3 linked regions of the Homo sapiens genome follow. The protein of the gene in region 1 purifies or fractionates together with the protein of each later gene. This does not show direct contact. Each region holds a gene or a part of one and is shown on either strand. Other genes may lie near its edges. The genes, in order: MAP3K6, AFG3L2 and RNF123.

What was found.
Region 2: the proteins of MAP3K6 (region 1) and AFG3L2 purify together in Homo sapiens (affinity purification with mass spectrometry, with the first as the bait; one large-scale study listed by BioGRID). This does not show direct contact.
Region 3: the proteins of MAP3K6 (region 1) and RNF123 purify together in Homo sapiens (affinity purification with mass spectrometry; 2 studies listed by BioGRID and IntAct, with this or other methods). This does not show direct contact.

What each region holds. Positions count from the first base shown.
Region 1 is NC_000001.11:27,356,907-27,360,552, forward strand, and holds part of MAP3K6 (mitogen-activated protein kinase kinase kinase 6), read right to left. Parts: intron 3,463-3,646; coding exon 3,335-3,462; intron 3,089-3,334; coding exon 2,952-3,088; intron 2,654-2,951; coding exon of another isoform or gene 2,617-2,653; coding exon 2,511-2,616; intron 1,961-2,510; coding exon 1,803-1,960; intron 1,706-1,802; coding exon 1,513-1,705; intron 1,414-1,512; coding exon 1,275-1,413; intron 991-1,274; coding exon of another isoform or gene 971-990; coding exon 805-970; intron 671-804; coding exon 494-670; intron 209-493; coding exon 103-208; intron 1-102. UniProt on the Homo sapiens protein: Component of a protein kinase signal transduction cascade. Activates the JNK, but not ERK or p38 kinase pathways.
Region 2 is NC_000018.10:12,346,095-12,349,740, forward strand, and holds part of AFG3L2 (mitochondrial inner membrane m-AAA protease component AFG3L2), read right to left. Parts: intron 2,290-3,646; coding exon 2,179-2,289; intron 1-2,178. UniProt on the Homo sapiens protein: Catalytic component of the m-AAA protease, a protease that plays a key role in proteostasis of inner mitochondrial membrane proteins, and which is essential for axonal and neuron development.
Region 3 is NC_000003.12:49,695,967-49,699,612, forward strand, and holds part of RNF123 (E3 ubiquitin-protein ligase RNF123), read left to right. Parts: intron 1-1,176; coding exon 1,177-1,256; intron 1,257-1,396; coding exon 1,397-1,491; intron 1,492-1,918; coding exon 1,919-1,973; intron 1,974-2,085; coding exon 2,086-2,171; intron 2,172-2,473; coding exon 2,474-2,560; intron 2,561-2,788; coding exon 2,789-2,856; intron 2,857-3,013; coding exon 3,014-3,139; intron 3,140-3,501; coding exon 3,502-3,616; intron 3,617-3,646. UniProt on the Homo sapiens protein: Catalytic subunit of the KPC complex that acts as E3 ubiquitin-protein ligase. Promotes the ubiquitination and proteasome-mediated degradation of CDKN1B which is the cyclin-dependent kinase inhibitor at the G0-G1 transition of the cell cycle.

The sequences.
Region 1 (3,646 bases):
GCCCCTGTCCCGCCTGGCCCCCACCGGCCCCATTCGATGTTCACCGCGCCCAGCAAGCACCACACCCTCGCTGGCAGGAGGCCCGTGGCATTCCCCTCCTACCCGGTCCTAGCACACCCAGGGCTGCCCGCACAGCACGGCTGAGCAGTGAGTCCAGAACGAACATCCAGTGTGGACGGATCTGGCGCTTGCGGAGGATCTGCTTCACCTGCAGGGGGAGGGAGGCGCCGCTGAGACAGCTGAGCCTCAACTAGAGGCAGGGCTTGAGTTGGAAAGGCCTAGAAAGTCTTCGGCGGGAGGCGAGTGGGGTGGGCGGGCTTGAGGTCCAGGGAAGGCCTGGGAAGCTAGGACTGGGCAGACGGTTTTTTGCTGCAGGCCTGATCTTCACAGAGGAGACAGGGAATCTGGGAACGTCAAGTCCTGGCACCTCACCAGGCACGGGGAACTCACTACCTGTTGTTGGGCAGCTCTAACTACCAGAAGGCGCCCTCACCGCATCCGGGAAGGCAAACAGCGGTCTGTGCAGAAGCGCAGGCCCAAGGCCCTGGGCCCTCAGCCGTCCTTGCAGCGCCCGCAGCTCCTGGGCGAGCTGCCGGCGGTTGGGAGTGTGGATGTGTGCCCCGAGGCAGCGCAGCAGCTCTTCCACATGGTTTCTGCCCAGACGGGCCCCCTGAGAAGGAAGAGAGGGGTTGTCAGCGAGTGCTCCAGCCAAAAGAGACGCTGCCGCGGAGGTAGGGGGCGGGGACATCAACAGGTGTCCTGACCCTTTGCGACCACCAGGGGGCGCTAGAGTGGGCCGCCCACCTGCTCTTGCTTCTGCTCCTGGTGCAGATTCTCCGCCAGCGCTGGCAGCTCCTGCTCCAATACTGCGGCCAGCATGGCCCGACGCTTGCTCTCCTGGTGCAGCAGGCTCAGCCCCGAACTCTCCTCCGGAGACGCAGGCTCCTCGGCCGCAGGCTCCTCGGGCACCCTGGGCACAAGGGCGAGCTGCTGATTGAGGACGGGCAGCAACCGGCCAGTCACCTCTGTTGCCGGGTTTGAATCCTGGCTCTCCTACTTTTATGCCTACCTCACAGGCATGAACATAGATAAACCCCGCACTGAGAGGACACAACAAGTCCAAGTTAGAGTTGCCAGAACAGGGCATGGGGAGGCACCAAATGCCACATTCACAAGTGGTCAAGGTGCCCAGGTCCCCAGGGAGGGCTTTTGTAGGAGAGGAGAAAAAGGCAAAACCAGGCAAAAGGAACCCATCCCAGGAGCCTTGGTCTCACCGGAGCTGGCTGGTGCCCCCATAACTGAGGCAGCGCTTCGGGGGGCTGGGTGGGTGCTGAGAGGGTGCCTGAGGGCACGGGAATGTCTGAGACTGGGTGGTTGAGTTGGCTGAAGGAGTGGGACTGGCAGAAGGGGCATCTGAGGGAGGGACAGAGCCATCAGCTGGGCTCTCCTCCACCCTCACAGCTCCACAACTCCTCTGCCCTCCACTGTGCCCATCCCGCCACCCGCAAGCACCTGAGGGCCGTGGAGCATGTCGTGGGGAGCTGGGGCTGCGGCTCCTTTTCCCAGGCTGCAGGAAGGGGTCCCCCAGCAGTGTCTGGGCGCTGGCTCGGAGGCGGGGGTCTGGCTCAAAAGTTCGGAGGAGAAAGGCTTGGGCCTCGGCCGACAGAGAGCTGGGCATTGGCGGATGGACCTTGTACATACCCACCTGTGGGGGGAGGGTGAACAAGGGTGACATTCAGAGGTGTCCAAGGCCCAGGCTGGCCCTATGCCACTTCCATGGGCCAGGCCCAAAGAGGTCTCACCTGAAACATGGCAGCCTGTGGGCTCCCGAGCTCGTGGAAGGGGGGGCGACCTGTGGCCATCTCAATGACAGTGCAGCCCAGTGACCAGATGTCAGCTGCTTTCCCATACCCGCGTGGGCCCTGGTCAATGATTTCTGGGGCCATATACTGCAGAGTTCCTAGGACAGAAACAGGAGCACCAATGCCCATCTAGGCTTCATCATGGGGTTGGAGCAGGGAGGGGAATGCCGTCATCCTCAGGCCGACTGCACCCATACTGAACCTATCATCCAAAATATACCTCAACACCTATCCTGGTCATCAAACATCTATCCTGAGTTCCATCACCACCCTGGGCTCCATCGCCTGCCAAGGCTTCCGTCATTCATCCTGGGCTCCACCACATTCACAGACTCCATCACCCACAGTAGTGCTCCAGCACACATCCTGGATTGCCTCGTCCCCCTGAACTCCATCACCTGCTTTTTCCTCCAACTCCCACCTTGGCCTGCATCAACACTCCTCAAGTGCTAAAGTCAATTTCATCACTTCTCCAAGCTCCAGTTCCAGATGCCACCACCTCAGCCCTGGCCCAATCACTCACCCTGGGTTTCATTCCCCATTAGGACTCTAACTCCATGCCTAGGAGAAACCCCCTTCCCTGGAAAGTTCCAAGAGATCTTCTGCCCCAGGTCAGCATCCCCACTCACCACCCCCACACCTTGTTACCTGTGAAGGTCTCAGTGCAAGGTGTGATGCCTGCCAGCCGCTTGGAGGTGCCGAAGTCAGAAATCTTGAGCAGCCCACTGAAGGTGTTGATCAGCACATTGTCCCCCTGATTGACAGCCATTAGTGGACACTGGTCTGGGCCCCTGCCAGCAGAAGTAGACCCTCTTTCTGGGATCCCATCTCCTGGAGATCCCAGCCTGGTCCTGCCTCTGTCAACACTCTCCCCTTGCCATCCCACTTATATGCCCCTCTGGGAGCTGACAATTGGTTTGGCTTCAGAGCTGAACCTTTCCCCTCCTTCTCTAAGGAGCCTCCCTGATGAATTCCCTACCCTTTGCAACAGGTCTGCTCACTTAATCTAAACTGCCAGCCTGCGTCTGGGACCATGTTTCCTTCCCCGCCACCCTCAGCAGATGAGGGCGGGCCAGCCCCAGGGCTTACTTTTATGTCCCTGTGCACGATGTGGTTGTCGTGCAAGTAGCCAAGTCCCTGCAGGATCTGGCGGGTGTAGAAACTGATGGTGCTCTCGTTGTCCTTCAGGGGTCCCCACACCGACCGCAGCAAGGAGGACAGGCTGCCTGGGTGGGGACAGTCCAAGTTCATTCTTCCCACCCACTGGCTCCAGCCCACATCTCTCTGCTCAAGGCCCAGACACACCCATGTTGTAGCCCAACTCCATCACCCAGCGCCACTCCTCAGCTAATTCTAGGCTACACCACCCACACGCACTAGGGTGCATTTCCCCCTAGGGCTCTCTACCCCTGCCTGCCTCGGTCCCATGCTTCACACCTCGGTTTCATTCCCATCCCACACAGGGCAGGTACCTCCAGGCACTTCCTCCATGAAGATCTTAAGGTAGCCGCCCTGGCTAGCTGAGCCCAGATAGCGCACTATGTTCTTGTGGCGCAGGCGTCTGTGAAGAGCGATCTCTTCATGCAGGGGCTGAGAGAACCTGAGGGGAGGTAAGGGAGAGAGGAAAGGGACCGAGGTGGGCAGAGAAGCCCCGCCCATCCCACGCCAGCCTGGCCCCGCCCCAAGGACCCGCCCCGCCCACAAGCCCTCTCCGACCTTCCCCACCCTTACTACCCTGCCCACAGGACCCTCCAGACCTCAATCCCGCCCGCACGGTCCTGGCT
Region 2 (3,646 bases), on another chromosome or scaffold:
AGCGCCTCATTTCCTGTCCCCTCCAGCCTACAGGTCCCTGTTACTGGCACATCTTCCTCGCTTGTCTGCTGATGCACCTTCAGTGCTTGTGGTACACCATGAGCACGGGTGACCTTGCTGACTCACCTTTCTCTCCTCTTACCAAATGTGAGCACTGGGTAACATTTCCTCTGCAACTCCCTCTCTCCCAGGAGGGTGGCTCCAAGTGTCCCCAACCGCCCATCTCACTCCACCTGGCACACCCTGGGACCACCACTGCCTGTTCCCAAGTCACACACGCATACCCCTGCCCCGGCTCACATGCAGGACAGCTCATTCTCTACGAGCCAGCTGCCTCTGCAAGCGCCCCACACTCCTGCGGTCTCTCAGTCTGTCCTCATTTTTTTTACGGCTGTCACTGGTGCTCCCCCCTGATAAGCTGTGGGCTCATGGTGCTCACAGTGATGACTGCAAGGTTCTCTGCCTCCATCCAGAGGCTTCCCTACTCTTCAAAGCCAGATTCATTCTCCTAAAATACCATCGATCATTATGTTACTCAGTGGCTCACGCCTGTAATCCGAACACTTTGGGAGGCCGAGGCAGGCAGATCACCTGAGGTCAGGAGTTCGAGATCAGCCTGGCCAACATGGTGAAACCCCATCTCTACTAAAAATACAAAAATTAGCCAGGCGTGGTGGCACGCACCTGTAATCCCAGCTGTTTGGGAGGCTGAGGGAGGAGAATTGCTTGAACTCGGAAGGTGGAGGTTGCAGTGAGCCAAGATCAAGCCACTGCACTTCAGCCTGGGGGAGAGGGCAAGACTCCATCTCAAAAAAAAAAAAAAAAAAAAAAAAGGAGTTAGAGACCAGCCTGGCCAACGTGGTGAAACCCCATCTCTACTAAAAGTACAAAAATTAGCCGGGCATGGTGGCAGGTGCCTGTAATAGCAGCTACTCGGAAAGCTGTTTATTTGAACCCTGGAGGTGGAGGTTGCAGTGAGCCGAGATTGTGCCACTGCACCCCAGCCTGGGTGACAGAATGAGACTCTGTCTCAAAAAACAAAAAAACAAAACAAAACAACAACAACAAAAAACCCACCTTAATTCAACACTGGCCATAGGACAAAATTTTAAAAGTCTTTGAGCTTAACATTCAAGACTTTCCAAAACTGACCAGTTTACTCTCCCTCAACACAGGGTAGACTGCCTCAAGTCCATCTGCCAGGCCACTTCCACGTCACACCCCAGTTTCATCCTGAGCCTGGGGCACACCCCTCCTCTTCCGTGGAACTCTGCCTGGTGCAGGGCTTCCCCTTCCTTTGAATGCCCAAGTTCTTGAATTGCTACTTGCCTTTAGGGATTAAATCAGAAGCCCTATGGAATGCTAAGAAAACGCACTGTGTGCGCTCCCCCTATGCTGACTGAGGAAGCACTTCCAGCTCTACGCCTGTTACAGTTATTTTATTTTATTTATTATTATTATTTTTTTTTTTTTTGAGACAGAGACTTACTCTGCTGCCCAGGCTGGAATGCAGTGGCACGATCTCGGCTCACCATAACCTCTGCCTCCCGGGTTCAAGCGATTCTCCTGCCTCAGCCTCCCAAGTAGCTGAGACTTCAAGTACGAGCCACCATGCCTGGCTAATCTTTGTATTTTTAGTAGAGATGGGGTTTCACTATGTTAGCCAGGCTGGTCTCAAACTCCTGACCTTGTGATCTGCCTGCCTCGGCCTCCCAAAGTGCTGGGATTACAGGCGTGAGCCACCGCACCCGGCTGTTACAGATATTTTACACCCATCACCTGTATCTAGCACAGAGCACCTCTAACTCATGTGATGAAACTTTTGTAAACAGGAAGGTTGTGAGCTTTTTAACAAACTTGATTGGTATAGTTCATGGGTAGACACCTCGCTGCTGGCTGCCTGTGCAAGCAAAGCATTCGTGAGCTGCCATCTCAAACTCACCCAGCACCATGGACCTCCATGCAGAGGGCAGGTGGCAGGGGACGGTGGCAGGAAGAAGGAGGAGAGGGAGGAGAGGCATGGGAGGGGCCATGACACCAAGAGAGCACAAATGTGGTGGGCCCCAGGGCTGAGTGGATACACTTTCTTTGCTTCTAGTTCTTGCCCAAACAGAGAAATCCCTGGCCTCAAATTCATTTTATCAGCCTTTCCACTTGAGTTATGTTCAGTTTCCTTACCACCAATCACTCGTTCAATTGCCTGTTCAAAGTGTTTCTGATTTATGGAATCTGACAGATGCCTTGCAGCAATCAACGCAGCTTCATTACAGACATTAGCAACATCAGCACCTAAAAAATGAACACAGAACAGCTTACCCACCGAAATACGCCCAAACTGATCAGTCACACAATATGGACAGCCAAATCCATAGTTAATTTTTAAATCAGCAGTACAATGAATAAAGGTTTTGTGTAAATATAATTCTGTTTTGACTCATGATAACCCTAAGCTATTCTAGCGTTTAATGTAAGCCTGGTATAATTCTGGCCCTCTGAACTAAGATGAAAGTATTAGTAGTCAATAGATAATTACAGGCAACTATTTACCTTAATAGACAATATAGCTCACATAATAGCAAACTAAGACAGCATCTAAAAATGCTCATTTAAATAACTTAGTTCTATCACCTGTGTTGGAAAAATGGCTTGCATAGATATTAGGTGAAGTACTGATATATGATGAAAAATCTAATTTTTATAATCACCTAGTACATTCAGTGAAACAACTAAATTTAAATATAGCTAAAAGCTTGTCAAATGCTTTTTAGATCCATCTCTTTAAACTAACTTTTCAGTTAAGTATATGGTAGCATAAATAAGCTACAGCATACCATCTGTGTTAAATAAACAAATATTAAAACATTATAAATTTCAAAGTCCAAAGACAAGTAAAAAGTTAGGATCCCTGGAACAAGATGATCATCTTCTGACCACACTATTGTATATAATCTTTTCATACTTCTCAAACTGTTCTTTTTTTATTTCATTTTGCGTTCAGAAGGAGAGAAATAGGGAATGGGAAAGGATCATATTTTACATTAAAAAATTATTGGAATAAGCACATGAAAAGATGCTCAACATCACTAGTCATTAGAGAAGTGCAAATCAAAACAACAGTGAGATGCCAAATCACACCAGCTAGGATGGCTGTAATAAAAAGACAGTGACGAGTGCTGGCAAGGATGTGGAGAAACTGGGACCCTCACAGGTTACTGGTGGGAATGTAAAATGGCACAGGTAATTAAAACAACCTGGCAGTTCCTCAAAAAGTTAGAGTTACCATATCACCCAGCAATTCCACTCCTAGGTATATACCAAGAGAAACACTATGACCACAAAAAATCTGTACACCGATGTTCATGGCAGCATTATTCATAATAGCCAAAAAGTGGAAACAGCCCAAATGGCCATCAACTGATGGGTGGATCAACAAGATGTGGAACAGCCAAACAATGGCACATTTACTTGGCCACAAAAAGGAATGAAGTTCTGATGCCTGCCACAATTTGAATCAATCCTGTTCATTATGTTAAGTGAACATAAACCAGGCACAAAAGACCACATGTTTTTATTTTTATTTTTTTGAGGTGGAGTTTTGCTCTTGTCACCCAGGCTGGAGTGCAATGGCGTGATCTCAGCTCACTGC
Region 3 (3,646 bases), on another chromosome or scaffold:
CCGCTGACCATTTATGGACTGGCGGGTACAGGACAGAGCCATCCAGCAGCTCAGAGGGCTGAGCCTTTCATACTTCCAGAACATGTCCCATTCAACACAGACTCCCCTGGCTGGGTGGTGGCGAGACTGGAATCTGCCCCAAAGGAACCACAGGCCTAGGGGCAAGGGTTGGACTAGGTGGCCTTGGTACTGACCACTTTGGGAACCAGCATTTCTCCCAGCCTTCTTCTTCCAGACATCATCAGCACAGCCACCTTTGAGAGCGGACAGGTTATGTGCTATGCAGACAGCACTTGTTATTCCCTGGGCTCTTCACAGCATCTCTAACATAAGTCACTATTCTGTTTTTACAGATGAAGGAATTAAGACTTAGAGAGGGCTACTTTTTTTTTTTTTTTTTGAGACAGAGTCTTGCTCTGTCACCCAGACTAGAGTGCAGTGGCACGATCATGGCTCACTGCAACCTCCGCCTCCCAGGTTCAAGCAATTCTCCTGCCTCCGCCTCCCAAGTAGCTGGTATTACAGGCACATGCCACCGCGCCCAGCATTTTTAGTAGAGTCGCAATTTCACCATGTTGGCCAGGCTGGTCTTGAACTACTGACCTCGTGATCTGCCCGCCTCAGCCTCCCAAAGTGCTGGGATTACAGGCATGAGCCACCGCACCTGGCCACATACTTTTTTTTTTTTTTTTTTTGAGACAGAGTCTTACTCTTGTTGCCCGGGCTGAAGTACAATGACACGATCTTGGCTTACTACAACCTCTGCCCCACCAAGGTTCAAGCTATTCTCCTGCCTCTGTCTCCCGAGTAGCTGGGATTATACGCATGCGCCACCACACTCAGCTAATTTTTGTATTTTTAGTAGGGATGGGGTTTCACCATGTGGCCAGGCTGGTCTCGAACTCCTGACCTCAGGTGATCTGCCCGCCTCGGCCTCCCAAAGTGCTGGGATTACAGGCATGGGCCACCACACCCGGCCTGGACTGGTTATACTTTTGAGTTTAGTGGAGAATTCGGCCTTCTGACCTCCTGCATGCCAGAGTCTAGGACTAGGCACAGCCCTTTTTCTGGAGTCTAGGCAGCCCCCCTGTGAGCTCAGGGGAAAGGATGGGATTTAGTGTCATCTGGCTGATTTCAAGGACTTGTGGACCCCTGGCAGCCTCTCACTCTCCCCAGGAAACCCCTGAACTTCCAGAACCTGCCAGAACATTTGGACCAGTTGCTACAGGTGGACAATGAGGAGGAGGAAAGCCAGGGTATGTGGCCACCTCTGGAGTGGGGTTGGGAGGTGCAGAGCTGGGACGTAGCGGGCCTGGAGACGTCTGGTGAGCTCAGGACACCCTATGCATCCTGTCAAATGCTCCACCCTGCCTGACCCCACCTCTCCTCTTTTCAGGACAGGTTGAAGGGCGGCTTGGCCCATCCACTGTGGTCCTGGACCACACAGGCGGCTTTGAGGGGCTTCTCCTGGTGGATGATGACCTGCTGGGGGTGAGTGAGGGTGAGGTGTGGAGACCCAGGTCCAGCCCCTTCTGACATAGCCCCAGGCTCCTCCTGATGTGGCCCTAGTCTCTCTACTCATCTGATGGGGCTGCAGCCAAAACTTGTCCTGACGTGGCCCCAGACCATTGTGTTCTCAGTCCTCAAACTCTCCCACTAAAGCCCTGAAACAGTCTTGATGTGGACTCAGCCCCCAGCCCTTCCCAGCACAGCCCTGAGTCCCTCTCTCATCCTGCCTTGGCCCAGGATCCTTCCTGATACAAGCCTACCCGCTCCCACCGTCCTCAGGCACAGTGCAGTGTTGGCCGCCACAGGCAAATACCACCAGGGCTGGCTCAGTTGGGGATGGGGTCTTTTTCCCTTGGGGAGATGCTCTGTGTGCCTGGGAGCTAGCCCACCACCCCTCTTCTTCACCCAGGTGATTGGACACAGCAACTTTGGCACCATCCGCTCTACCACATGCGTGTACAAAGGTGAGACCTTACCCTGCTGTGGCCTAGGTAGTGAGGAGAAAGTTTAAGGGCCCAGGCATGAGGCAAGAGGCAGTCTTTGTCCACCTCGTGGCCCTAACTCAGCTCTTTCCAGGGAAATGGCTCTACGAGGTCCTCATCTCCTCCCAGGGGCTCATGCAGATCGGCTGGTGCACCATCAGCTGCCGCTTCAACCAGGAGGTACACGTTGGGGAGGGGACCCCTCCCTGGGCCCAGGGAGAGCTTCTCCTGCCACAGGCCTCATCAGGTCTCCAGATCCCCTCAGAACTGCCTAGGACCCTAACTAACCTGGACTGCCCTCTGGAGAAGAAACGTGTCCCACCCAATCCCAGGCACCCCAGCTCAGAGAATACCTCTTACTCTTTCCCTCAGATCATCTGTTCCCTTCTGTAGAGCCATATGCATCCAAGGCTGGTGATTGGTGGGCTCTGGCCCAGACCCTGCCTGCCTCACCAGGGACCTCATAGGCATTTCCTCCCTAGGAGGGGGTTGGAGATACACACAACTCCTATGCCTATGATGGCAACCGCGTGCGCAAGTGGAATGTGACCACAACGAATTATGGCAAGGTGAGAGCCAAGCCCCTGTGGGTCATCCGCCCCATGACTGTTACTACAGCTTATTTGGAGCCACTGGGCAGCCATAAGGGACTACAGGGCACCAGGGAAGGGTCAGGGACCCAGGTCCTTTGTCCTTGTGGCTAGTCTCCCTTGGGTGGTTCTGGAAACGCAGCTGGGGTTCAGAGTCAGCAGGCTGCTGGGCTTCTGTGCATCTGGTGAGGCCTCCTCTCATGGCAGGCGTGGGCAGCGGGGGACATCGTGAGCTGCCTGATTGACCTGGATGATGGCACTCTGTCCTTCTGCCTGTGAGTTTCCTATCTCTATGCACAGGCCTGGCCCCTGGGGCCTCCCCAGACTGCCCCCAGTTTCCTGGGCCCTGTAAGGGGCCAGACTGAGTTTGATAGCCTGAGGGTGGGCAGCCACATGCTTAGCACTGGCTCACAGACCCACCCTTCTCCCCAGGAACGGTGTATCACTGGGCACTGCCTTTGAGAACCTGTCCAGGGGCCTGGGTATGGCCTACTTCCCAGCCATCAGCCTCTCTTTCAAGGAGTCCGTGGCCTTCAACTTTGGCAGCCGTCCTCTGCGATATCATTTTGTGAAGATGGCTGTGGGCTGCTCAGAAGCTCTTGGGGAGGCTGGGATGAGGGGCTCCCTACCCCAGGGGTGCCATGGGCTGGTGGCAGGCCCTGGCTGCTGCAGAGTTAGTGGGGGGCCATGTAGAGTGTCGAAGAAAACTTTCCTCGCAGCAGCCTGGTTGGTTGGGTGCCCTTGTCTCCACTGAACAGATGAGGAATGTGAAGCATCCTCCCTAGGGAGAATAAGTGGGCAAGTTGTGATGCAAACCAGCCCTGCCCTAGAGCCCAGGCCCCGGGGTGGGGGGTGGGCAGTGGAGAGGGAGTAGGCATGTCTGAGCCACAGATAAGGCGTTGCTGGCTTAACTCTGGCACCTACCCAGTGGCAGGCTACCGGCCCCTGCAGGACCCACCGAGTGCTGACCTGGTGCGGGCACAGAGGTTGCTGGGCTGCTTCCGGGCAGTGCTGAGTGTGGAGCTGGACCCTGTGGTGAGCTGGGGTCTGGGCCAGGCGGGGTGG